Linked DNA regions of Homo sapiens. The protein of the gene in region 3 purifies or fractionates together with the protein of the main gene of each other region. This does not show direct contact. Each region holds a gene or a part of one and is shown on either strand. Other genes may lie near its edges.

Region 1 (7,035 bases), on a different chromosome or scaffold from region 3:
GAATGCTTTCACATAATGTATATTCTTAGCAATCCTGTGAAGCATCTAGCAAGTGACACAAAGCTCAAGTGGTAGAGGCAGGATTCTAACCTAGTCAGTTGGTTTACATAAATTATATTCTTTTGTTCAGGAGCCAGGTTGTTTGACCTAGACAACTGATACAGAATTTTCAGTCTGAAATTGGCTCATCATATATAATCCTGAGTCTTCCCCTCCATGCTCCTGCTACAAAATCCTAGCTCAATGATGGTAGAGTTTAACATATTCTCGTGTTTGTGTTCCCTGTCATCTTATTTGTAGCTTTATCCTTTTATTTTGCACAACCGTTTGGCCTTTCCCTTTCATTCCTGTTCAGGCACGTTGTAGGCTCTTGATTGCTTTATGCAGAATGGAATTTAATGTTCTAGAAACTAAATTAGGAACAAGCCATTTATGTATTAGATGCTCTCCTTCCTAAGGAATGAACTTAAGCCTGAAATTGTCCAAAACCAATATTTGGAATTTTTGGTGTATTTTTTTAGAACCTTCTTTTAGTCGTCTGCCCCTGAACTTATCTTTCAAAAGGAGAGTTTATGATTTCTGTCCACTATACTTCTAGAGTACATAAAAATTAAATTAGAAAACAATTCCAAAATGTCCCTTTTTAGGTTCTGCCTCTCTCACTAAGTCTGAGCAGGGCCTAGCCTAGAGATTTTTGTTCACTTATTTTTATGAAATCATTTACAGTCTGGTCCATGCCCTGTCTTCCTTCATATTTTACAAGTATCATATTGTGGAAAAGCTACTTATGTGATTTTTGTCCTGAACTCCTGCTAAGGAACTATTATTCCTGTGTGGGGAAAGAGAGAGATTGCTTGATTGATTGAGGGGAATCTTAGCAACAACAGATTGATTGTCCTCTTCACAGATAACTTCCTAATACACATTCCATAAATTACAGTTTTACTAGGAAAGACATAGGGCATTATATTCCTCTTTGCAAATACTTTTTTATAGAAATAAGCCTTAGTATAACTTTCTTTATTAGATAATTGAACTCACTTTCTTGAGGGAATGAAAGAAAAAGCATTTATTTCATGATGAGGGGCCTTAAGCATTTTAGGCTATAGTGGTCCCGTAAGGGATAGAGTTATATTTGGAAGATTGGTAAAAATGAACTACCTAATGTTTCTTAAATCTAGAATTACTCCTCATTTCTTTCAACTAAAGCAGAAAGTCCAAAGACATATATTTTCATTCAAAAAATATTTTTCTTGTTTTTGAAAGACTCAGTTGATATGTTGGTTAAATGTGAAATATTTGTTTTTCAAGTTGTTATTATTACATTTATTCACCTCTATCATATATTCATTTGTTCTTTTTTTTTCTTAATAGGTTTTTGACTAAAGGCCAGAATGCATTGGTAGAGCTACAGACACAAAGACCAATAGCTCTTGAGCTATATAAAGACTTTAAAGAGCTGGGGAGGTTCATGCTACGTTACGGTGGTTCTACAATAGCTGCTGGTGTTGTCACTGAGGTATTTTATTTTAAAGTGACTCATTATATATCCATAGTTATGATGCCTTTTCTTTTTTACCTTTTAGGAATGAAAAGAAAGCATTGAGGGAATGAAAGAAAAAGCATTGATTAGGAGAAGCCTTACTCATTTTAGGTTGTAGTGGTCCTTTAAGGGATAGGGTTATATTTGGAAGATTGGTAAAATCTTCAGTGAGATTTTATGCCTTAAAGGAAACACAGTTATGCTACTAGAACAAGAAATTAGAATTTATATTAAATTCTAATTGCTGGAGAAAACAGCCAGAAATGAACCAGAAAATTTCAATGATTTAATTTCTTCTACACTATCATAATTAATATGAATCTTATGAATATTGTATTTTAAAGGGTACTTCATTACTCCACATGATTGTTTTCTGCCTAAAACTAGTTTATTTAATTGGATATAACATAAACTTTAAGTTGCATCAAAAGTGAGTTACACATATCATGAAAAATCTTTCTTTTAAGTTGCTAAAGCACCAAGAAACTCTATATACATAATTTAAGTAAAATACATATGGAAGGCGGTGTGGGGTGGAGGTGAAGAAAACAGCTTTCAGAGTTACACTGCCCATTTGTGTTCTTGCTCCACCAGTTTTTAGCGGCATAAATGCATTTCTCCTTCAATTTACCTCCTTCAGTGTAAAAATAGGATAATAGAATCTACCTCCTAGAGTTGTGTTGAAATGAAATGATAACGTGCAAAGCACTCAGCACATAAAAAGCATCCAATATTGGTAGCTGATATCGTTGCCATCAATATCACATTTAATCTATCAAGGCATTCTTTCTAAAAGAGCATTCTAAAAATAAGATAGAGTCATTTGTGGAGAATAATGGAGAGATTATAGTAAATTGCAGAAATGGCATGACTAGGAAAGGAAGAAAGTTGCAGGACAAAGAAAAAGATTTTCTCTTGATATAATAATTCTTTCACCATAATTTTCCCTTTGTTGTTCTTATAATGTGATTGATTAAATTACAGCAAATGTCTTTTTTTTTTTTGTTTTAACAGATAAAAGAATGATGGGTCAGAATTTCTACCACGTTTCTGGATACAGTGAAATAGCTAACCTCTGTTTCAAGAATGCAGTTATTAAGTCAAAGGAACAATGTGCAATTGATATGTTTTTAGATGAGAGAGAAAAATTAAAGCTAAAATTAGCTGCAAAGAAGTATTAATAATCACCTCTGCAAAAATTCTAAGTTGCCAACTGGCAAAGAAAGTCTAATGTTAAAAACAACTTTGCCTTTGAAACGTTAATAAATGGATTTACTTTGCTAAGATTTATGGCAAGTGTCAAAAATAGTATCTGAAGATACTGAATCATCATGAAATGAACTCTACTTCTGGCCAAAGCACAATGTATTTGCAGTTTTCTCTTTTGATTCAATTATACTGCACATGTTTTAAGGAAAAGTAACTTAATTGGGTTTTTCAGGCAGTTGATATTTGACCTAAGCTTTTTTTTTTTTTTTTTTTCCAGTTAATGCTAAGAAAAGATTTGGGGAAGGTTATAATAAAAGTATTTTGTGGTGACCATAAGAATGTCCCTCCCCAAACAAGTAAACTTGTGAAAGTTTAATTTGGAATTAGTGGAAGCTGTTCCTTTGAAAGCCAAGATATTATTTAAGTTGTAAAGCCAGCTAATAAAATGCCTTAGTTTGAGCATAATACAAACTGTGTTTTGTTCTTTAGACATTTATGAGATTCTCTGCCACTAACAGTAAATATGATTTAGGGGTTTTGTGGGATCTTTTTCACCTAAGAGTTTCCTAGCTCTGTCACATGAATTCTTTTTTATCCTAATGGCAGATCCAATTTCATCTCATTCATTTTTTTAACCATAACTTGCTTTTCCCATTCTCACTTTTAGAATTATACCTATGATGGCCCTTTCTTTATCTTGCTTACCTTATAGATTATAAGTCCCCTGTGAGTAAGTAAGAGTCATGTTTTTCTTTAAAGTTTCAACAACAAACCCCAAGGTTTATTTATTTAACAACAGGTATTCGTTGAGGTGCCTTCTGGGTGCAAGGAGCTTTAGAGTAGATTTTGACCTCAGCTGAACCTGGAACTCTGATCTGATAGACTGTTTATGATAAGCTTTTTTTTTTATTAGCAGCGTGATTTGTATATCGATGGCTTAACATATACAACAGCATTTCTTCTCCCTGCACCTTTTCGTGAACCTGACATTTTGAACATAAGCAATAACATCTGTATGGTAAAGTAGGCAGATTATACATGTGTTGCTTAGTGAATGATTACCAAGTGAACACACTTGGTATATTGCTTTACCAAAATACATGTGTAGTTGTCACTTCAGATTCACTGAGTTAAGAAAGTTTTATTTAAATATTAATATTAATCAAGAATTTAACAGATATATGTGACAGAAATCTAACTTCAAGTGACTGAAGCAGAAAGAAAAATTTTTGAATGACATAACTGAGAAAATTAGAGGTAGCTCTAGCTTTGATTCCATTTAGATCGAGCAGCTCACACAATGTTAGCAAGGACTCATCTCCACTCTGCCTTCCCTGGTGCTGGTTTTGCTCTCAAACTCTATATAGAACTCTCGGCCGGGCGCGGTGGCTCACACCTGTAATCAAAACACTTTGGGAGGCTGAGTCGGGAGGATAGCGTGAGCCCAGGAGTTTGAGACCAGCTAAGGCAATATAGTGAGACCATGTCTCTACAGAAAAAATTTAAAAACAGATCAGCTGGGTGTGGTGCCACATGCCTGTAGTCCCAGCTTCTCAGGAGGCTGGGGTGGGAAGATCACTTGAGCCCAGGAGGTCGAGGCTGCAGTGAGCCATGATCACATCACTGCAGTCCAGCCTGGGTGACAGAGCAAGACCTGTCACCCTGCCACCCATAAAAAACCTCTTCTGTAATGCCAGGTTCTTGACAAGATGTGATAATTCCACACTTACATCCTCAGATCTCCCATCCAGGGCAAGGACAGACTAAAAGAGCATATCTTCTCCAGAAGTCCTAGAAACATCTCATCATTGACTATGATTGAATTTTATTTATTAATACTTCCCTAGGATATCCTGTGTTTGAGTGTGAAGTTAATATCACACAAAGCATGTAGCTAACAGTTGTGTGAGGGTTGGAAATTCAGGGTGCTGTTAGGAAGGGGAAATGGATTGGGGTTTAAGGTAGGGGGAGTAAAAACAAGAAACCATCCACTCTGTATATTATATAAGACTGTGATCGAATTAAGAATTTTAGTTTACAGTTTAGCATAAACAAATAGTAGTAGAAATGAATGCATTTATTCATTCCTTCCTTCTCCAATAGTGTTTAAGTACAATCTTTTTATTTGCATTTTATTGATGATTGATTGTGGTTGAAAGGAGTGGTGATATTATTTCGAGGATCCACTGTGTAAGAAGACTGTTGGCAGTGGAAGGCTCGAGTTGATTAAGTGACAAAGAGGTAAAGCAGACATGCCCAAGCTTGGTTATGCTCTGATTTCCTACCCTGTTACTTTCATCCATAATTTATAGTACATCCATTTTGTGTCATTTTGCTTCAGGTATTTCTTGTCCTGACTGTCTTCTTTTTTATGATTTTACTGTTTCTTCACACTAATGGCTTTGTCCTCTGACTTTGACTCTTTGTGAGATTCTTCTGAGCAGTTAACCTCTAGGATAATGTGGCTTGAACACATTACAGAACTATGTTTTGACTTGTTAGTATTATTCACACATTCATGACAATTGAGCCTCTCTACTGTGAGAAATGTTTTAGAGGCCAGTTTCTAGGCATAGCTGTTTTTCTCCCATGAGTATGCAAATCAATAGTTTTAACCATTGTTAAAATGCAATCATAGTGACTTCAGAAAATTTGGAAAATACAGAAAATATAGGGAAGAATAAAATTAACCCACAGTTCTGTCACCTAAAGGTAACTGCTGCCAATGTTTTCATGTATTTCTTTTCTGTCTCTCCAATGCATTTTTTTACATAGTTGTGAGCGTTAGCCAAGTTATTTTCATGTTGTTATGTAATCAATATTTTTCAATAGAAGTATTAGAGGTTTTTTTTATTGATATAAAAATAACAATTACAGATCCTGATATATAGAAGTTATTCAAAATTATACAGTTTTCAAAAAATCAAGACAAGTAGGCCCAATACAAACTACTGAATCATCTTCTAATTTCCCTCTAAAATATTTATAGAAATATGTAAGTAGAAAAACATTCATCCTTTCCTCGTCTAATTATGATCCTGCCATATTCCAGGCACAAGAGAAAGCTCTGGGGCTTGAGTCTTAATAGGGCTGATAGTCCAACCAGGGGACAGGGTATCATAAAGAGATAATTCAAAACTTTAAGATTGGAGGGTAGGTGATGGTAGAAAATTCTGCGGCAAACATTTGTTGATGCTCATCATTTGTTGATGTCATCAAAGATCACCAGGGCATAATTATAATCAAAATTAGTTTTATTGATGCTTGCTGCAGCAAGAGAGACTGCACACCACTGGGGTCTATGGGTGCTTCTCAGTGGGAAGGTGTAAGGAGGGGCTTGCTAAGAATTTGAGCACATGTAGCTAATTTTAAGGAGGGCTCAAGTGAGCAAGGGTTTCTTCTGGATTGAGTGCTGTCAGAAAGTGGATTGAGTGCTGTCAGAAAGTGGGAGTGATTTTGCAACTGGGTATCTTAATTTTTATGTTGTGGGTGGGAGGAAAGGAAAGAAGCAACAGTCACCCATGTTAGCCACAAGAAGAGGTTGGCTGTTTATGGTTTGCACAGTGACTTTGTTTTTATCTGTGCTCAGGCATGATTACAGTATCTCATTTTATCCGGATTACAGTGACCTCATCTGATGTTAGAGATTTGAGAATTGTTAAATGTTCAGCAGGAGAACGCCACCGCCTAGTGTGAATGCTAGGTCAGAAGCTGCTTTTTCACACTGAAACCATTTAAGTATGTACAAATAAGTTAATAGTGTAAATGTAGGTGTAAAATACAATGCAAAACAAAATAATGAAGTAAGTGAATTAAATTATTGCACCAAATATGGGGATATGAAATAGGGAAAGAAAAGCATTAAGTTACTTATAGTCCATAAAGGGACTACATTATTTTGTTACTCTGATAATCCCATAAAACAAAGTTTTAAGAATGTTTACAGTAACCATGAATGGAATTAGTGAAACTATTCATATCAATGCAAAAAAAAAAAAAAAAAAAGCAAAGAAACTAAGTCTGTACAGCAAAAGATGGAAAGGAAACAAGAAAATTAAATGAAGACAAAGGTTGTGATTATTACAGTAAATGAAAATAGGTTTTTATCTTTAAAATGTAGACTCAAACTGCAAAGCTAATGATATGCTATCTGCAAAATATTCCTATTTTGTAAATAAATAAAACCATAGATTTAAAGAAGAAAGGGCACAGATGTACTGGGGAGACAAAAATAACTGATCCGTTGGGTGTATACCATGTGCCAAGCAATTTTCATATACTCA
Region 2 (7,035 bases), on a different chromosome or scaffold from region 3:
GTGTTAACAATGAATATATTATTTGAATAATAAACCACTGAAGGAAAACTTTAGGAAATTTTCAGATGTTATAATTTACAAAAAGTAATTGATAATATGGTCTGTATTTCCTTAAATTTATAATTTAAACATTGCAATCTATATACTTAAATTTTACCTTTTATAAGTCTTTTAAGAGAGTCCAACTGTGTAGTAAGCAGTATTTCTTCGTTTTTTAATATCTCAAATTTAACTTCATATAGTTCTAATTGAATTTCATAAAATTGTATTTCTAATTCATCTACAACATTTGTATTTTTTTCTTGTTCTGGAAGATCTTCCATCTTATTTTCATAGAAAAAAGAAAAATAAGTTAAAATAAATTAGTATATTAAAAACAAACTTTAGAAGCATTCTAGCTATTTTCTATTCCTTGTTCAGTACTAAATATAACAAAGCAAATAGGAAAGAAACACTTTTTCATTTCATCTAGTGATGCAAATACTTTATCTCATCCTTGAAACAGAGGAAAACATTTAGGTTCTGAGAAACATAAATGGCAATGAGGTATTATTATGTACTGCATATTGGTGTCCCCCCAAAAATTCGTATGTTGACACTCTAACTCCCAGTGTGATGTTATTTGGAGGTGGGTCCTTTGGAAGTAATTAAGTTCAGATTATGTCAAAAGGATAGCACCCCCATCATGGGATTAGTGCCTTTATTAGAAGAGAAAGAGAGGGATCACTTTCTTTCTAAACATACACACAGAAGAAAGGCTATATGAGCACTCAGTTAAGAAGGCAGCTGTCTACCAGACAGGAAGAGGATCCTCACCGGACAGTGAATCTGCAGGCACCTTGATCTTGGACTTTCCAGCCTCCAGAACTGTGAGAAATACATGTCCGTTGTTTAAGCCACCCAATCTGTGATATTTAATCTTGTTATAGAAGCCTGAGCCAACTAAGACAGGTGTTTACAGTGTTTTCTGCTTTAAAGTCATAAGATTATAGGAAAAAATTTAAGTGACTATGCAGTGAAGTATCTCTTTGATTATTTTAAAGTTGTAGTGAAAACATTGCTGGGTTGATTTTCAAGTACAGTACCCATTTCAATACTGAGCTTGGTATTACTATAAAGTGAAACCTACAATATGGTATTTTGAAACATCTTAACCAAAGGAAAACTTTATGTCTAACCTTCCACAGAAGATGGTGTTGGAATAAGCGAAGAAAAGAAGCTCTTTAACGATGCCTGGAAAGAAAAGTGCTATCTAAAAATAAAAGTGTGCTTTACCACATGGTCTCACTTATAAGTGGGAGCTAAGTAATGTGTATACACAGTGTGGAATAATACACACTGGAGACTCAGAAGAGTAAGAGGGTGGGAGGGGGGATGAGAAATATTTAATAGGTACAATTACATTATACAGGTGATGATTACACTAAAAGCCCAAACTTCACCACTACACAATATATCCATGGAACAAAAACTGCACTTGTATCCTTTATTTATACAAAATGTTTTAAAAATAAAAGTGTATTTTTAAAACAAAGTTATGTTTATCTTTGTCTTACCTTTCCCTGAATTTCAGCTCTTTTGTGATTTAAACACAACTCTTTCGCTCTCATGAGTTGCAGAGTCTCTCGAGCTAGCATTAGCTGAAGTTTTTCCAACCTGGGAATTGCTGTGGCCCAGGCAGCCTGACCAAATCTCTTCGCATCCTGTTCCATTTCTTTCTGCATTCCTGTTGGATTATAAAAATAAAATATAATTACACCTCATTAAAAAGGGAAACATTTATCATGAGCTAATCCTTTTTTTATTGCCTCCATACTACCTGCAGAATATCCTTTTTAAAAGAAATTTTATTAACTTTTTTATTATGATAAAAATAATACATGTTCATTGATATAAAATTTTAGGTATTCCATTTTTAAAAAGACAGTAAGTCATGATCTCACCTAGTTGAGGCAACTGCTTCTTATATTTTGGCACACTTGCTTCCATATTGTTTCTATGTCTAGCTAGACAGACAGGCTCATATGGATAGTTTGACCACAAAACCAGGATCATCATTCTGCTTTCTATCTTGTTGATTCTGCACAATGTATCAGAAACTCTTGCCACTCATAAAAAAAAATCAAGAATCATGCTTAACAGCTACGTAGTTTTCTGTTTTATGAAGGTACCATAACTTAACAAACTGACAGACGTTAAGTTGTTTCCTACTTGGTGTTTTTATCAACAATTATTTAAGACTAAAAAAAAGTCCTTCACCCAGCCCACAAGCCCCTGCATGGTCTGACCCCTGCCTGTCTGGCCAGCATTTTCCCTCATACCACACTGTCCTGCACTCTCTGCGATCCAGCCCCGCAGGTTTTCTTTAAGCTCCTAATTTGCCAACTTCCCTCAAGGCAGGGGACTTTTGGCAGTGCTATTCCTTCTGCCCGGAATACTCCTCACTTTTTATTTTCTCTCAACTTCCATTTACCCTTCAGATATTGGGGCAAGCGCCACTTCTCAGAGGCCTTCAGTGACCACCACCCTGATCAAGCCCAATTTCTCTCTCACAGACCCTCAGAGCCCATGTCTCTCTTCTTTGTGCCATTTACTGTCACTGCCATTTTCCATGTGCTTCAATGAATAGATAATTAAGATTTCTCTCCCTTCACCAGACTGTACAACGTCTCTTAACGCTTGACACTGAATTCTCAGCACCTAGAAAACATAGTACCTAGTGCGTAAGAGGGACTCAAATGGTATTTGAATAAAATGATAATCAATTACATGTATCTTCATATAGCATTTTTTAAATTATCACCTGCTAATGCTTTTACTGTCTCCTTAAAATAATTCACTGTGATATCCTGAATAGAGACGACAGCTTCTTCAGCCCGTCTGGTCCATTCTTCAGCTTCTTTCTCCAGGGCAACTACCCTTCTAGGACCTAGGTCATCCTCATCCAAAGACTTCTACAGACAGAAGGGAAAATTTTCTTAGTAAGAGCTAATAGTTATGTAGAGCCATTAGGAAATTGAAAGGAAATTGGTCACATGGATTAATTTAACTACACTACTACTCAGTCAATTAAATTTTCATTCATTCAGCAGTCCCTTACTGCGTATGAATAAGGCTCTAAGCTGAGCACCACCTGTAAGACAAAAGGACACTCTGGGGCATAAAGCGAAAAAAAAACCCACTTTCACTTCACATGCCTAGAATAACTTTTTCTAGAGAGGAATGTTGTCAACTTATGCTTCTATTAATAATAATACACAATTGTTTAAATGAGTGATCTGTGTTGTCAAGCACTCAGCATAGGGCCTGGAACACAGCACTTAAGTATTAGCTGTTGTTACTGTTTCTTTTAGGGATATGTAATATAATCACCTAAAATATAGTATCTGTATATTCATGCTTATAACATGTACTGGTATTGGACTCCCCCCAAAATGCATATGTTGAAGCCTAAATCCCCAGTGTGATCATATTTGAAGATGGGGCCTTTGGGGGGTAATTAGGTCATGAGGGTGGAACCCTCAAGAATGGGATTAATGCCCTTATAAAAAGAAGAGGAGACACAGGATCTCTCTTTCTCTGCTCTTCACCATGCGAAGACACAGCAAGACAGTCATCTACAAATTAAGAAACTGGCCCTCACAAGACAATGGATCTGTGAGCACCTTGATCTCAGACTACCCAGCCTCCAGAACTGTGAAAAAAAAGTTTTGTTGTTTATAAGCCACTAATCTACGGTACTTTGTTATAACAGCCTGAACTAAGACGTGTACTGCTATGTCATCCAATATGCAATTTTTCTTCTACAAAGCCTAAGAAATATGTACAAGTTAGCCGACAAGGAATTACAAATCAAAACCATAACGAGATACCACTTCACACCCACTAGGATGGCTGTAACCAAAGAGACACACAGTAACAAGTGCTGGTGATAATGTGGACAAACCGGAACCCTCATTTACTGCTTTTGGGAATATAAAATATGCACCCACTTTGGAAAACTGTCTGGCAGTCTTTCAAAAGGTTAAACATTGAGTAATCACAGGACCCAGCAATCCTACTCCTTAGTACATACACAAGAGCAATGAAAACATATGTCTACACAGAAACTTACACACAAACATTCACAGAATTATTCATAATAGCCAAAAAGTGGAAACAACCCAAATGTCCATCAACTGATAAATAAAATGTAATATATCCATACAATGAATATTACTCAGCAATAAAAAGAAATGAAATCCTGATATTTGCTCCAACGTGGATTAGCCTTGAAAACATTGTGCTGAGTGAAAGGACCACATATTGAATAATGCTGTTGCTATGTCCAGAGTAGGGAAATCCACAGAGACAGAAAGTAGATTGGTGGTTGCCCAGGGTTGGGAGTGACTAAAGGGTACAGGGTTTCTTTTGGGGGTGAAAATGTCCTGAAATTACACAGTAATGATCACTGCACAACTTTGAATATACTAAAAATCACTGAATTGTACTATATATATATATATATATATATATATATATATATATATATATAAAATCTGTGAGTGATATCTTAAAACACCTTTTATGAAAAACAGGCCGGGTGCGGTGGCTCACGCCTGTAATCCCAGCACTCTGGGAGGCCGAGACGGGCGGATCACGAGGTCAGGAGATCAAGACCATCCTGGCTAACATGTTGAAACCCCATCTCTACTAAAAATACAAAAAAATTAGCCGGGCATGGTGGCGGGCACCTGTAGTCCCAGCTACTCGGGAGGCTTAGGCAGGAGAATGGCGTGAACCCAGGAGGCAGAGGTTGCAGTGAGCTGAGATTGCACCACTGCACTCCAGCCTGGGCGACAGAGCGAGACTCTGTCTCAAAAAAAAAAAAAAAAAAAAAGAAAGGAAAAATATAGGCTGGGTGTGGTGGCCCATGTCTGCAATCCCAGCACTTTGGGAGCCCAAGGCAGGCAGATCACCTGAGGTCGGGAGTTCGAGACCAGCCTGACCAACATGAAGAAACCCCGTCTCTACTAAAAAAATACAAAATTAGCTGGGCGTGGTGGCACATGCCTGTAATCCCAGCTACTCGGGAGGCTGAGGCAAGAGAATTGCTTGAATCCAGGAGGCAGAGGTTGCGATGAGCTGAGACTGCGCCACTGCACTCCAGCCTAGGTAACAAGAGCAAAACTCTATCTCAAAAAAAAAGAAGAAAGGAAAAATGTATGCAAGAAGTAGACTTTCCAAATAATAGACTTTCAAAATAATGAACAGAACAACTTTATCCACAGGTTAGAGTGGTATGACTCTCATCTAAATGTGATACTATTTTTATAATACAATCATCTGGCAAGGGTCATGAGATTATATGTGGAAAGATGGCCCGGTGCAGGGGGCAGAAACCAAGAGACATCTTAGGTGTCTTCTGATTTCTGTTGTTGAGACCCAAGGCAAGCTGTTTAACTCCTCTGGACTCTAGATTCATTTGTAACACTGGAATAAGCATGCCTTTTCTGAATGATGTCACAGGGTTGTCTGATGGCTCAATGAAGCAAGAGTGATAACAGCATTTACTAAAATTTAAGTTACTGAATTACAATCTAGGGTCCTGCTATTTAAATTTTCATCTTATTTTAAGAAATCTGCGTAAGTCCTTAGAGGAAAACAAGCTGAAGCAAATAAATATCACATCAAAAACAATTCATCAGGCTGGGTGCAGTGGCTCATGCTTGTAATCCCAGCACTTTGGGAGGCTGAGATGGGTAGCTCGCTTGAGGTCAGGAGTTCAAGACCAGCCTGGCCAACATGGTGAAACCCCGTCTCTACTAAAAATACAAAAAAAGTTAGCTGGGCGTGGTGGTACACACCTGTAATCCCAGCTACTCAGGATGCTGAGACAGAAGAGTCGCTTGAACCTGGAGGAGGTTGCAGTGAGCCAAGATCATGCCACTGCACTCCAGCCTGGCTGACAAAGGGAGACCCTGTCTCAAAAAAAAAAAAAAAAAAAAAAAAAAAAAAATTCATCACCAGAAAAAACATTTAACTCTTTCAAATCTGTAGGAATCTTAAGCTATTAAGATGACCAACGTAAATGTCTTCATTTTCTATCAATTTTAAATATAAACTCAATATGTACATATAAGGGTAAACTAGGCACATGTAATGCTGTGCTTTGGGAGGCCAAGGTGGACAGACTGCTTGAGCTCAGGAGTTCGAAACCAGCCTGAGCAACATGGCAAAACCTCATCTCTATCAATAAATAAGTAAATAAATAAACATAATGGTAAACCCAAACAAAGTACAAACAGAGATTGAACATTAAGTGTAAATAAAGAAATAATTTATGACAAATAGTAAATCTGATAAAGTAAAAATTTTAAAAAAACATACCAAAATATCAAGCTTACATAAAGTTGCAACTTCTCGCATAGCCCTAAATGGCTGCAATAAGTACTGGAAGAACATGGTTGCCACGGTAACCAATTCCTGGTATGCTTCATCTTCCTCTTGGTAAACGTTCATTAATGCTACCATGGTGTTGGCTTTTCCGTGTCCTTGAATAACCTAGAAAGCAAATGTGAATAAAGCTCAAGTCAGGACAGTATATTTAATACATACCCAACAAACAAAACTAAACAAAAGAAACCTTCATGTTCTCAACTTTTAATACATCAATTTTAAATACTGATTAAATATGAAAATGTTATCATCCTCCATCAAAAATGCCCAATAAAACAAGAATGGTTAAGAAAAGTATGATATATCCATGTAAGAATATTATTACTGTAGTCATTCAGCACTGTGCTTCTGAAGATTGTTTAATAATATGGAGACTTTTGTCCAGGCATGGTGGCTCACACCTGTAATCCCAGCTGCTGGGGAGGCTGAGGCAGAGAATCGCTTGAACCTGGGAGACAGTGGTTCCAGCCTGGGCAACAAGAAGGAAACTCCATTTCAAAAAAAAAGACACTTTTATAATATTAAATGGAGAGGCAGAGTGCAAAGTTTAATCTCAACTATGCACTAAGTATGCAGCGAAAGGGACCCAAAAGAAGG
Region 3 (7,617 bases):
TGTATAGCTATAAGTGCCTGTATTAAGAAAAAAAATCTCAAATCAATAACTTAACCTTCCAACTTAAGAAACTGGAAAAAGATGAGCTAACTAAAAGAAAATCAAGCAAAAGGAAGAAAATAATAAAGATTAGGGCAGAGATAAATGAAACAAAGGGAATAGATTAACAATAGAATCAATGAAACCAAAAGTTGGTTCTTTGAAAAGAACAACAAAATTGCCAAACTCTTTTTTGGTTCCATATGGAATTTAAAGTAGTTTTTTCCAATTCTGTGAAGAAAGTCAATGGTAGCTTGACTGGTCATTAGAGAAATGCAAATCAAAACCACAATGAGATAACATCTCACGCCAGTTAGAATGGCAATCATTAAAAAGTCAGGAAACAGTGGCACGTGCCTGTAATCCCAGCTACTCGGGAGGCTGAGGGAGGATAACTGCTTGAGCCCAGGAGATGGAGGTTGCAGTGAGCTGAGATCATGCCACTGCACTGGAGCCTGGCCCACAGAGCGAGACTCTGTCTCAAAAAAAAAAAAAAAGGAAACAACAGATGCTAGAGAGGATGTGGAGAAATAGGAACACTTTTACACTGTTGGTGGGAGTGTAAATTAGTTCAAGCATTGTGGAAGACAGTGTGGTGATTCCTCAAGGATCTTGAACCAGAAATACCATTTGACCCAGCAATCCTATTACTGGGTGTATACCCAAAGGATCATAAATCATTATACTATAAAGACACATGCACACATATGTTTATTGCAGCACTGTTCACAATAGCAAAGACTTGGAACCAACCCAAATGCCCATCAGTGACAGACTGTGTAAAGAAAATGTGGTACATATACACCATGGAATACTATGCAGCCATAAAGAAGGATGAGTGCATGTCCTTTGCAGAGACATGAATGAAGCTGGAAACCATCATTCTCAGCAAACTAACAGAAGAACAGAAAACCAAACACCACATGTTCTGACTCATAAGTGGGAGTTGAACAATGAGAACACATGGACACAGGGAGGGGAACATCACACACCGGGGCCTGTTGGGGGGTGGAGGGGTAGGGGAGGGATAGCATTAGAAAAAATACCTAATGTAGGTGACAGGTTGATGGGTGCAGCACATCACCATGGCGCGTGTATACCTATGCAACAAACCTGCATGTTCGGCACATGTATCCCAGAACTTACTATTTAAAATAAATAAATAAATAAATAAAAACTATTAGGACTAATAAGCAAGTTCAGCAAGGTTGGAGGATATAAAATCAATATGCAAAAATTAATTCCATTTTATAAACTTGCAAGGAGCAATCTAAAAATGAAATTAAGAAAACAATTCCATTCACAATAGCATCATAAATAACAAAATACTTGAAGTACAAAACTTATACACTGAACACTATGAAACATTGTTAAAACAAGTTTTAAAAACCTAAATAAATGGAATGATATCCATCTTGTGCTCATGGATTGAAAGACTTAATTTTAATAAGACAGCAACACTCTCCAAATTGATCTACAGAGTCAAATCAATACCTATTAGCATTCCAACTGCCTTATTTGCAGAAACTGATAAGCTGTTCTTAAAATTCATATGAAATTGCAAAGGGCTCCAAATAACCAAAACAATCTTTGAAAAGATTGGATCCTCCACAGTAGGAGGACTCACACTTTCTGATTTCAGAACTTTCTACAAAGCTACAACAGTCAAGAGAGTGTCATACCAGCATAAGGGCAGACATATAGACCAATGTGTATTGACCATTTCATTTCCTCTTCTGGGAATTGTCTCTTTATATACTTTGTATTTTTTATGTGTAATCTTTTATCATTGCCTTACTGTTTTAAAACAAATCAGCTTTATTAACATAGAAATAGAAAGTCCAAAAATACATCCATACATCCATGGTCAATTGATTTTCCAGAGTGTCAAAATCATTCCATAGAGAAAGAATAGTATCCTCAATAGAGTGCTGGGATAGCTGGATATCCACATGCAAAGGAATGAATTTGAACCCCTTCCTCACACCATGCATAAAAACGAACACAAAATGGATCATAGACCTAAATGAATGAACTACAACTATAAAACTCTTAGAAGAAAGAATGAGTAAACCTTCATGACCTTGGATTGGGCAAAGTATTCTTAGACATGACACCAGAAGCATGAGCAACAAAATAGAAACTCGATAAATTGTACTTCTTAAAAATCTAACTTTGTTTTTCAAAGGACACCCTCAAGAAAGTGAAAAAAAAGAACACACTGAATTGGAGAAAATATTTGCAAATCATATATGTGATAAAGGACTTGTGTCTAGCATATATAAAGAACTCTTATAACTCAATAATACAAAGACTAGTAATCCAGTTTAAAAATGGGCAAAAGATCTAAGTCAATATTTTTCCAAGGAAGATACACAAATGGCCAATAAGAATGTAAAAATATGCTTGAAGTCATCAGTCGTTAGGGAAATGCAAATCAAACTAGAATAAAGTACCACTTCACATCCATGTTAGAGAGAATGTGGAGAAATTGGAACCCCATAGGCTGCCAGTGGGATGTAATATGGTACAGCCACTGTGAAAAAGTCAGGCATTTCATCAAAGGGTTAAACATAGAGTTGCCACAGGACTGAGGAATTCCGTTCTTAGGTATAAATCCCAAAAAACTGAAAACAGATATTAAAAAAAAAAACCTGGCACATGAATATTCGATGGTAGGATTATTTAGAATAGCCAAAAGGTGGGAACAACCCAAATGTCCCTCAATGAATGAATGGATAAACAAGATATGGTCTATCCATATGATGGAATAGTATTCAGCCACAAAAAGGAATGAAGTACTGATACTTGCTACAGTGTGAATGAACCTTGAAAACATTATGCTAAGTGAAAGCAGCCAGTCACAAAAATGCACATATTATATGATTTCATGTATATGAAATGTTCAGAATAGGGAAATTTATAGAGACAGAAAGTACATTAATGGTTGCCAAAGGCTGGAGGAACATGGGATAGAGAGATGATAGCTAAAAGGTTCTGGGTTCCTTTTTTTAAAAAATATATATACATATTTTATTATACTTTTAGTTCTAGGGTACCTGTGCAGAACGTGCAGGTTTGTTACATATGTATACGTGTGCCATGTTGGTGTGCTGCACCCATTAACTCGTCATTTACATTTACATTAGGTAAATGTAATCCCTCCTAATGCTATCCCTCCCCCCTCCCCCCACCCCTCTGGGTTACTTTTTGAAGTGATAAAAATGTTATAAAATTAACTGTGGTGATAGTTGTATATATCTGTGAGTATATTAAAAACCTATGCTAAGAATTGTTCACTTTAAATGGGTGAATTGTACAGTATGTGAATTTTCATGTTAATGAAGCTGATTTTTTTTAAAGAGTAAGGCAACGATAAAAGATTACACATAGAAGGCCGGGCGCGGTGGCTCACGCCTGTAATCCCAGCACTTTGGGAGGCCGAGGCGGGCAGATCACAAGGTCAGGAGATCGAGACCATCCTGGCTAATACAGTGTAACCTTATCTCTACTAAAAATACAAAAAATTAGCCGGGCGTGGTGGCGGGCACCTGTAGTCCCACCTACTCGGGAGGCTGAGGCAGGAGAATGGCATGAACCCGGGAGGTAGAGGTTGCAGTGGGCCGAGATCGCGCCACTGCACTCCAGCCTGGGCGACAGAGAGAGACTCTGTCTCAAAAAAAAAATAAAATAAAATTACACATAAAAAATACAAAGGATATGAAGAGACAATTCCCAGAAGAGGAAATGAAATGGTCAATACACAAGACTTGGTATTGACCTCATCAGTAGTCAGAGAAATGTAAAAATAAAGCAATGAGACATATTTTTATTTAACTAAATTCTATTGAGAAGAATTAAGAAAGAATAAAACATACATATGATGCTTGAAATAATGCAGAGCGATGGTCTTTTCACACATTGCTGGGTAGAATTTAAACTGTTAAATAGTTTTGGAAAGTAGAATGCCCATGTCCGTTAAATTTAAAATACTTATACTCTTTGAATTCATGGCCCCTTTTTTAAGACTGTAGCTCACAGAAATAAAATACTTGTGGCTACACTTTAAAATAAGTTATGACAAAAGGGAAATTAGGTGGAAATGGAAAGATATTTATGTTGCTTTATTAATTGCAAAAAGCAATTATTAATTGAAAGTAAGGCCCCAGTTTAATTTTTGTAAAAACAAACAGCAATAAATGCATATAGGAATACAAACACATATAATATTTGTGTGTTTATGTGAGCATGGAAACACTTGTAGACTAATATATAATTATGTGCCTTCCCTTTTTTGTGCAGTTTTGTATTGCTTTGCTAGTTTCAATGAAAAGGTATGACATTGGCAGTTTGAACGACAGAGAACAGTTTTAATGAACAGAGGGTGGGTGGGGTAGTTAGAAAGGGAGGGATCGCGCTAATGTTGCAGCCATTTTGTGTGCGCTCCTCTTACAGATAGTGCGGCGGCCCAGGCGTCGCGTCTACGCGGGGGATTACAGTAACCCGGTTGTCAGTGATGAGTCAGAGTGCGTGGTGCTGATGCTGCTGCCATTTCATCACCTTTGCGAGCGCAGCATCCATCCCTCCGCTCTCCCGGCGCCTGGGCCTACCCAGCTTCGGGCTCCCAGGCCAGCGATGCGCTCGCGGCTGAGCTAGATCCTGCCGAGCCGCGCTCTCTGAGGCGTCGGCGGGGCGCCCCCTCCCGCCGTCCCCGGTCCGGGCCAAGGAGACCTGCAGAGCCGCGGCCATGGAGGCCATCTGGCTGTACCAGTTCCGGCTCATTGTCATCGGGGATTCCACAGTGGGCAAGTCCTGCCTGATCCGCCGCTTCACCGAGGGTCGCTTTGCCCAGGTTTCTGACCCCACCGTGGGGGTGGATTTTTTCTCCCGCTTGGTGGAGATCGAGCCAGGAAAACGCATCAAGCTCCAGATCTGGGATACCGCGGGTCAAGAGAGGTTCAGGTGGGAGCGCAGTCCGGGCCCGCAAGCAGTGGGAGGGTCTTCGGGGTTTGCACCGCCTCTGGGGAGAGAGGACTTCCTGGTTCTAGGTGCGGTCCAGGAGGGCAACACCAAGGGTCTTGAGGATTCTGCCGAAGCCCACCTTCGGCTAACCCGGAGTTTAGTGCAAGGAAAGAAGCGCCCTGGCAGGGAAGGCCGGTCAATAACACATATTGCTTGCACCACAACTCCACCAACCTGCCCTTTGGTGGCTAACAAACTAGCTGGAATTGATCTCTGTATCTGTAATTCATCAATCTCAGTCCCTATGTTACATACTTTCAAAAACGTTCCCAGGTCATCCTAACATAACTGACAGAGATTTAAATACATAAATACATGTGTATTATGTTTTATTTCCACATCTGTGTGTGTGCACATATATATGCTAACATATGTTCTAACATGAAATAGATACGATTGATTCCTTCTTGCAACCAGCACACATTCAGTGATCATCTACTATGTGCCAGACTCTGGGCTTGTTCCTGGGAAAACAGTGTGAGGAGACTCACACAAGGGGATGCCATGTAATCTAAACAGACAAAGCCCCTTCATTCTTGGAACTTCTGTGCTAACATAGTTGAGGGAAATAGATAATCAGCAATTACGAAAGTGTGTCTTGCTCATATTTGTATGCCCACTCCCTACTGTAACACTTGGCACAAAATGAACATGCTTAATTTCAATCAATGAATTCATTGAATAATCAATGAATATGTTTACTTTCACTCAGAACCCTTTGCTTTTCTATTGTAGCATGTATTATTTGTAATTATATGTATGAACACAGAGGAGGAAAGGTTAACTGGAGAAGATGAGACCGGATGAGTATGACTGCCTAAGCAAAGACAGGAAACGCCCAGGGATAGGAAACAGCATGAATAAAGACAGAAGTGAGAGGGAGCAGAGTGTACACAGAAAACTTTGCAGAGAACAATTTGAACTAAAGTAGAGCAGCAGGAACCAGATCAAGAAAACTCAATAGCCCAAGTTTATGATCATTTACTCATTTATCTATTGAAAACTAACTAAGCATAGAAGATACTGGTTGGGTAATTGAAGAGGGGTAAGGAGAAGAAATAATTACAAACTTAAGTTACCTCCAGCTCCCCACTTCCACAAACACCACTGTGGAAAATATCCTTGTACAGGTTCACTTTGAACTTGCGATTGCATTTCTCCTAAGCAAAGAAAGGTATCTTTTATGTGTTTGTTGGAATTTCTTTCTATATGAACAGCCTGTTCATATCCACTGCTTATTTATTTATTGGGCAATATGGACTTGTAAGAGTACTTTATAGATTAAGAATATTAACCCTTTCCTGTCATGTATGTTGTAAGATATATTCCTAGTTTATCATCTGTCTTTTCACATTATTTAAGATTTTTTAATGTAGGGAAGAATTTAAGGTTTATGTAGCCTTATGTCCATGCTTAGAAGGCCTTTGTCACTTTCTTTGCTAAGTACTCACAAACAATTAATGTAATAATATATTCCAGAGTTTTGACAGTGATCTACAGCTTGCTTGTTGATTTCTTGAATCAACCTTCTCACAAATCAAAACCTTTGTTTGTTCATGTCTAAATTTTCTGGTAAATCTACCATTCTCCATGAATCTTCAAACCTAAGAGACGAGAAATGCTTTCAGTCCCCAGGGCTGATTTGCCTGATTTTGGAGACTTAAAGTCATTTGTAAGTTTTACTTTTACCATCATCTAGCTTGGACTGTAGGTCCCTGGACAATGCTTGTTCTGCTAACATTGAGCCATTTTCTCTAAGCTATTGAGTCCTTCGTTGTCTATCTTCTTTATCTGAGGAGACAGAAAACCTAAAAATAGACATAGGTAAAAAAAATCACAGTAGTCTAAAGCAAGTGACTGCAGAGACAAATAGGTCCATACCCTGTAATAAGCTTTAATACACTGTAAGCAAAGTGCCATAATGTATATTTATAATGAGGTTCCTCAAGTCAAGAAGTTAAAACATGTGAAGTTTCTTCTGATGGCTCCTGAGTTGAGTTGGCCTCTCTGAAATGTGTCAGGAAACAGGGCTGAGAGGCACTTTGCCTGAACCCTTCGCCATCTCTCTTTTTCCCATTCCCACAGGCCTTGAAAATAAAAAATAAAATTGTGTTTCTCCTCACAGAAGAGATTGAGGATCCCTGTTAGCTAATAATAATAATAATAATAATAATAAACAATAATAATAATGGAAAGAGAAAAAAACATGGTAATGATAAATGGAAAAAATGGAGTAGCAAGATACCTACTTTAAATATTTTGTTAACTATCATAAATTCATTTCTATGTTTTAAAAATCCTGTTTCAACTGCTAGCATTTGTAATGAACTCTCCACGTCACAGAACACTTTAATATCCATTGTTTCATTTTGCCTCATGGTAACACTGTGACTTGGGTATCCTATTTTGCAGAAAAGGAAGTCTCTGTCAGTTATTCAGATTTGGGGGGTGGGAGAGTTAGTTGTAGTTTTACCTGAAGGCAAGAAATAGAACTCAGTTATGTCCCAGGGTCACTCTCCAGTGCTGAATCCATGGAAAATGCCTAAAAGTTCATGA
Region 4 (4,158 bases), on a different chromosome or scaffold from region 3:
TGTTTCCAGGGATTTCAGGGTTTCACGCTGGTGGACGTTGGTGTTTCCGAGTCATGTCCACCCCCGCACTTCACCTCTGTCCTCGGTGGGGAGCCTTCCTGCTTCCCTCGGCCCAGCCTGGCAACAATGACGCTGCTCGCTACGCTTGTCCTGCGAGGTAGGGCTTGGCTGTCCAAATCCACAGATGCAGAGCCTGAGGCTTGGATGGGCAGCCACCTGCCCAACAGGGAAAAGATGCAGAATGTGGACCACGCTCCCTGTACCCGGCAGGGGTAGGGCGGGGACATTTCCTGATGGTGCCAACTGCCCCTTAGCAGTTATTCCCGGGTTGTATGAGCCCCGACAACCTCTTAGGAACCTGGGGATGGGAGGGAACCTGGTGCGGGGAGGAGGGAGAGGGAGGGGCTCCAGCCACCACACCCCTGCCAAGCAGCTGCGCCGGGATGAGGGGTCATTGGCTGGGAACCTTCCCCTGTGCCAGGCCACGGCCTCCTGCCACAGCCCCCAGGAGCAGCACGCTACATTCTTGGTAACTTTTTTTCTCTTTTATTGCCAAGTTTAAATTTACAAGGAAGTTCCAGTTTTCATTTCCACCCTCGTGTTCAGTACCCACGAAGCATGAGTCATGCTGGCGAAAGCAGGTACTTCCCTAGAGCGGTCCCGAGGCTCAGAGGCATCGAGGTTTTCTAACCCTCGGTTCTCACTGGGACAAAAATTATTTACATATTTTTAGCTCAAGGAAACATAAGGAACTCGTACAGTGTAGGCCCAATGTCAAGATGACTACATTAAATGCTTCAGATTTATTTATTGCATCTAGACAAGAAGATCAAAATCAGTTCACCCCACGCCTTTTTAAAAAACGGTGCATCTCAGAGACCTTAGAGGAATCTAGCGCGTCTGGCAGGGCTGCGCTTCTTCACCTGCCCCTTAGGTTGCTTGTGAACGCAAGTGTCTGGGTTGTGGGAGGCTGCCAAGGCTCCGGGAGAGGGACTGGGCTGGGACAGCGGCAGAGGAGGGGCTGCTCACGGAGGCCCCTCCTCCCAATCCCACGCGATGGTGAAGGCTGGCCCTTCCTGCCTGGGGGAGCGCCTCAGCTGGCCCCATCTGACCTGCTGGGACAGGTACCTTGCACGTCCAGAAAGGGACGAGCACACCTCCACAACAATATTCAAAGCCAAGGTTTGGGAGTTCCTGCGGCCAGCCCTGCTCCCTGACTTGGCAAACCCAGCCGGAGGTGCACAGGGGAAGGGTGGACCAGGGCCTGGGCCATAACTCTAAGTGCTCTCTGCAGGGACTTGGGGGGCGGGCCGGATGGGTCTGTGGGGGCTGACCTCAGACCTCTGAGGCTATGACCTGAGTGTCAGAAGCCACAGCCCCCACTGTGGGCCTTCCCACACTCCTGGCTCTTCCTCTGGATGCCAGGGGCCCAGCGTGTCCTGTCTGGACTGGCCTGTCTGGGAGCGCCCCAGCTATGAGGTTTGACGGGAGCTCCTGAAGACATAGCTGTGCCCACTGCCGCTGAGACCTGGGTGAGGTGGGGTCCTTTGAAGCCAAAATGGCTGGTGGCCTCCAATGGGCTGGCTCCCAGACCTCCTTACATAAGCAAAGCTTCTGGGAGCCCTGGTTATAGGAAATCCTCACCCCACACACCTGGAGGTGTCCCCCAGACGCAAGTTGCCAGCCCCAGCTGAAAGAGGCCCCTGAGAGTGACCCTGCAAGCCCACATGGGGACTGCCCTTTTCTTGGCCAGGGATGCAGGGTAGAAGCCCTGCCCTGAGCAGTGTCTTTTATCCTCCGCTGGTCCTCCCAGTCACCTTTAATCCTCTGCTGGTCCTCCCGGGCATGCTGTCCAGCCCTGACCAAGACCTCTCTCCTTCAGTGCTCAGTGGTTACAAGACCAGTTGGAGCCCAGAGACTTCTGACAGCAGGCTGGTGGCCCACCCGTGTGGCATGGAGTGAGCTGCAGGCTGTTCCTCCTGGTCACGCCTTGGGGTGGGGCAGCCACTTGCCTTCTCTAGTTTCTGCTGCCCCACAGACAGAGTCATTTCAAAACCAGAAGTGCATGTCTCAGGGGCTAGCCATCTCCAGCCAGGGCCAGCTTGATCCTCTCTACCCCTCTTGCTCTTAAAAAATTAAGCAACACACAGGCTGCCTGCTGGGTGTGGCGTGTCCCGTCTCCTGATGCTGTGGTCCTTCTCTCCATGATGGTCTTCCCCCCGCTCCACCCTGCCTTCCTTCTCTTCCAGGGATTCTGCAGATGGCCACGGTGGTCGTGGTTTGTCCTTCCTTTGGGTTTCTGCCCATGTGGCCCCCTTTCTGAGCTGTGCGTTTTCTCTATGGAAGCAAAGGTCCTTGTACCTGCAGCCATGAAGGCTGGGTGGGCACAGCTACCCAGAGGGCTTCTAAGGACTGAGGCCTGTCCCCATGGGCGCCACTCCCCCTCCTTGGCAGGACTGTGTTTCCTTCATGAGGTTGAAAACTGCCCTCGGCAGGCCTTGCCGGGACAGCTGGCTGGGCCGAGGAGACAGAGACCATGTTCTTCTAAAATGCAGGTGGCAAAAGATCTCAGCGCGGCTCCCGAGACTACCCTATGGCCAGGCTCCGGCGGATACCTAATGCCCCTGGTGGGCACATCTGCTGGCAGGTCTGGAGGAAAGTTGTGGAAGGTCTCACCAGTGACCAGAGAGGTGAGGGGCCGCTGGCCCTGGTGGACTTGGGGAGGGTGGATCACGGCCTGGGCTGTGAGTGCTGTGTCTGGCTCCCGAGCTGGCCGAGTAGAAAGGAACATCTTGGGGGCTGTGTCTGATGCATCTGGGTCCTTGCTTGTACACACCCAGTCCGAATGGGGAAGGGAACCATGGGGTTTCCATATTCAGATCAGCAGCAGTAGCAGAGGGAGAGTGACAGACTCAGAGCTCTGGGGACACCATGCCCTTGCAGCTGGAGGGGAACTGGCTCTGGGCCATCTCTCGGCACATGTGGGCACACACAGTCGAGGGCAGGTGACGTAGAGGGTGTCTTCCTTTGATTTCCATCATGGCCACAGGGTCGGGAGTCTTCACGGTCCCAACTGGTTCCTTCTTAGAGATGGTAACACTGAAGAAGGTGCTGGAAGCTGTCTCTGTTTGGTTTTGGTGAAGAGAAATGAGGAAGCGTCCTGAGTGGGGAGCTGGCTACATTCCTCCTTTTCCTGGAGAAATCTTTCCATGATGGGAGGCCTCTCGGCTGCTATAGCAGAAAACCATTCAGCCCTCTCAGCTCTGTGTGTACCTGAGAATACATGTATCTCCCTTGTTTTTGTTTAAAAAATAATCCAAACTTTCCAGGAAGGTACTTCATTATTCCACAGGCTTGCAGAGTTAGTGAGTAACAAAGAATCACTTAAATAAATGGAAAAAGCCACACTAAGAACTCTGAAACAAAATATCAGGAAAGGTCCAGTGAAAATGATCATGAAATCTTAACTGTTATTATTACACTTTTCACATGACATCAAACCTTAGTGTTGATGTTTTTGGACTTCTTTTAAATAGAAGTTTTAAAAATAAATGTTCACCTGCTGCCAAAAGCGGAAATAAATATCCAAAGGAGATGTTTATCTAAGTCTGCTTTTCTACAAATTTCTACGTACAGTGACCTGGTCCAATTCTTCTGTGCACACTGGGGCTGGTGACAGAGGAGCCATATGACAGAGGAAGAAAGAGGTGCCGGTGGGTCCTGCCACCCGGGGCTCAGAGACACGGAGCCCAGGCAGCTCCCTGAGTGGCCGGTGCAGTCATCTGCATTCGCCGCGGTGTCTCCGCTGGTCCCAGCCTGCACGTGAAGAGATGCAAAGTGAAAAAGGAATTCAAGGACAACGTGGGGCTTCTTCCCATTCAAGGGAGCGCAGGGATAGGTGGTTGAGATGGCTGCTGGGGGCCGCACAGAATGGTGGGTGCTCCCAGTGTGTCTTGCCAGTCAGCGGCACTGGGGTCCCTACCAGCGGGGCCACACACACAAAGGGAGGCCCCGGCACTGACTCAGTCCTCAGCGGTGCCCACAGGCTCAGCACATGCAGCCTCTTCGCCCACGGGCTCTGTGCAGGCGGCAGCCGGCGTGGACAGCGGGGGCATGCCGGTGAGGCTGCGGAGGCTGTGGGGGTCAACTGGGGGGACA

Evidence for each region.
Region 1: the proteins of RAB39B (region 3) and HBS1L purify together in Homo sapiens (affinity purification with mass spectrometry; 2 studies listed by BioGRID and IntAct, with this or other methods). This does not show direct contact.
Region 2: the proteins of RAB39B (region 3) and WHAMM purify together in Homo sapiens (affinity purification with mass spectrometry; 2 studies listed by BioGRID and IntAct, with this or other methods). This does not show direct contact.
Region 4: the proteins of RAB39B (region 3) and CLEC16A purify together in Homo sapiens (co-immunoprecipitation; 3 studies listed by BioGRID and IntAct, with this or other methods). This does not show direct contact.

Annotation. Positions count from the first base shown.
Region 1 is NC_000006.12:134,960,813-134,967,847, reverse strand, and holds part of HBS1L (HBS1-like protein), read left to right. Parts: intron 1-1,374; coding exon 1,375-1,519; exon of another isoform or gene 1,520-1,522; intron 1,523-2,557; coding exon 2,558-2,569; 3' UTR 2,570-7,035. UniProt on the Homo sapiens protein: GTPase component of the Pelota-HBS1L complex, a complex that recognizes stalled ribosomes and triggers the No-Go Decay (NGD) pathway.
Region 2 is NC_000015.10:82,812,611-82,819,645, reverse strand, and holds part of WHAMM (WASP homolog-associated protein with actin, membranes and microtubules), read right to left. Parts: intron 6,544-7,035; coding exon 6,370-6,543; intron 2,955-6,369; coding exon 2,804-2,954; intron 2,768-2,803; exon of another isoform or gene 2,059-2,767; coding exon of another isoform or gene 1,944-2,058; intron 1,727-1,943; coding exon 1,557-1,726; intron 324-1,556; coding exon 158-323; intron 1-157. UniProt on the Homo sapiens protein: Acts as a nucleation-promoting factor (NPF) that stimulates Arp2/3-mediated actin polymerization both at the Golgi apparatus and along tubular membranes. Its activity in membrane tubulation requires F-actin and interaction with microtubules.
Region 3 is NC_000023.11:155,261,458-155,269,074, reverse strand, and holds the start of RAB39B (ras-related protein Rab-39B), read left to right. Parts: upstream 1-4,583; 5' UTR 4,584-4,786; coding exon 4,787-5,001; intron 5,002-7,617. UniProt on the Homo sapiens protein: The small GTPases Rab are key regulators of intracellular membrane trafficking, from the formation of transport vesicles to their fusion with membranes.
Region 4 is NC_000016.10:11,178,555-11,182,712, reverse strand, and holds the end of CLEC16A (protein CLEC16A), read right to left. Parts: coding exon 4,023-4,158; 3' UTR 527-4,022; downstream 1-526. UniProt on the Homo sapiens protein: Regulator of mitophagy through the upstream regulation of the RNF41/NRDP1-PRKN pathway. Mitophagy is a selective form of autophagy necessary for mitochondrial quality control.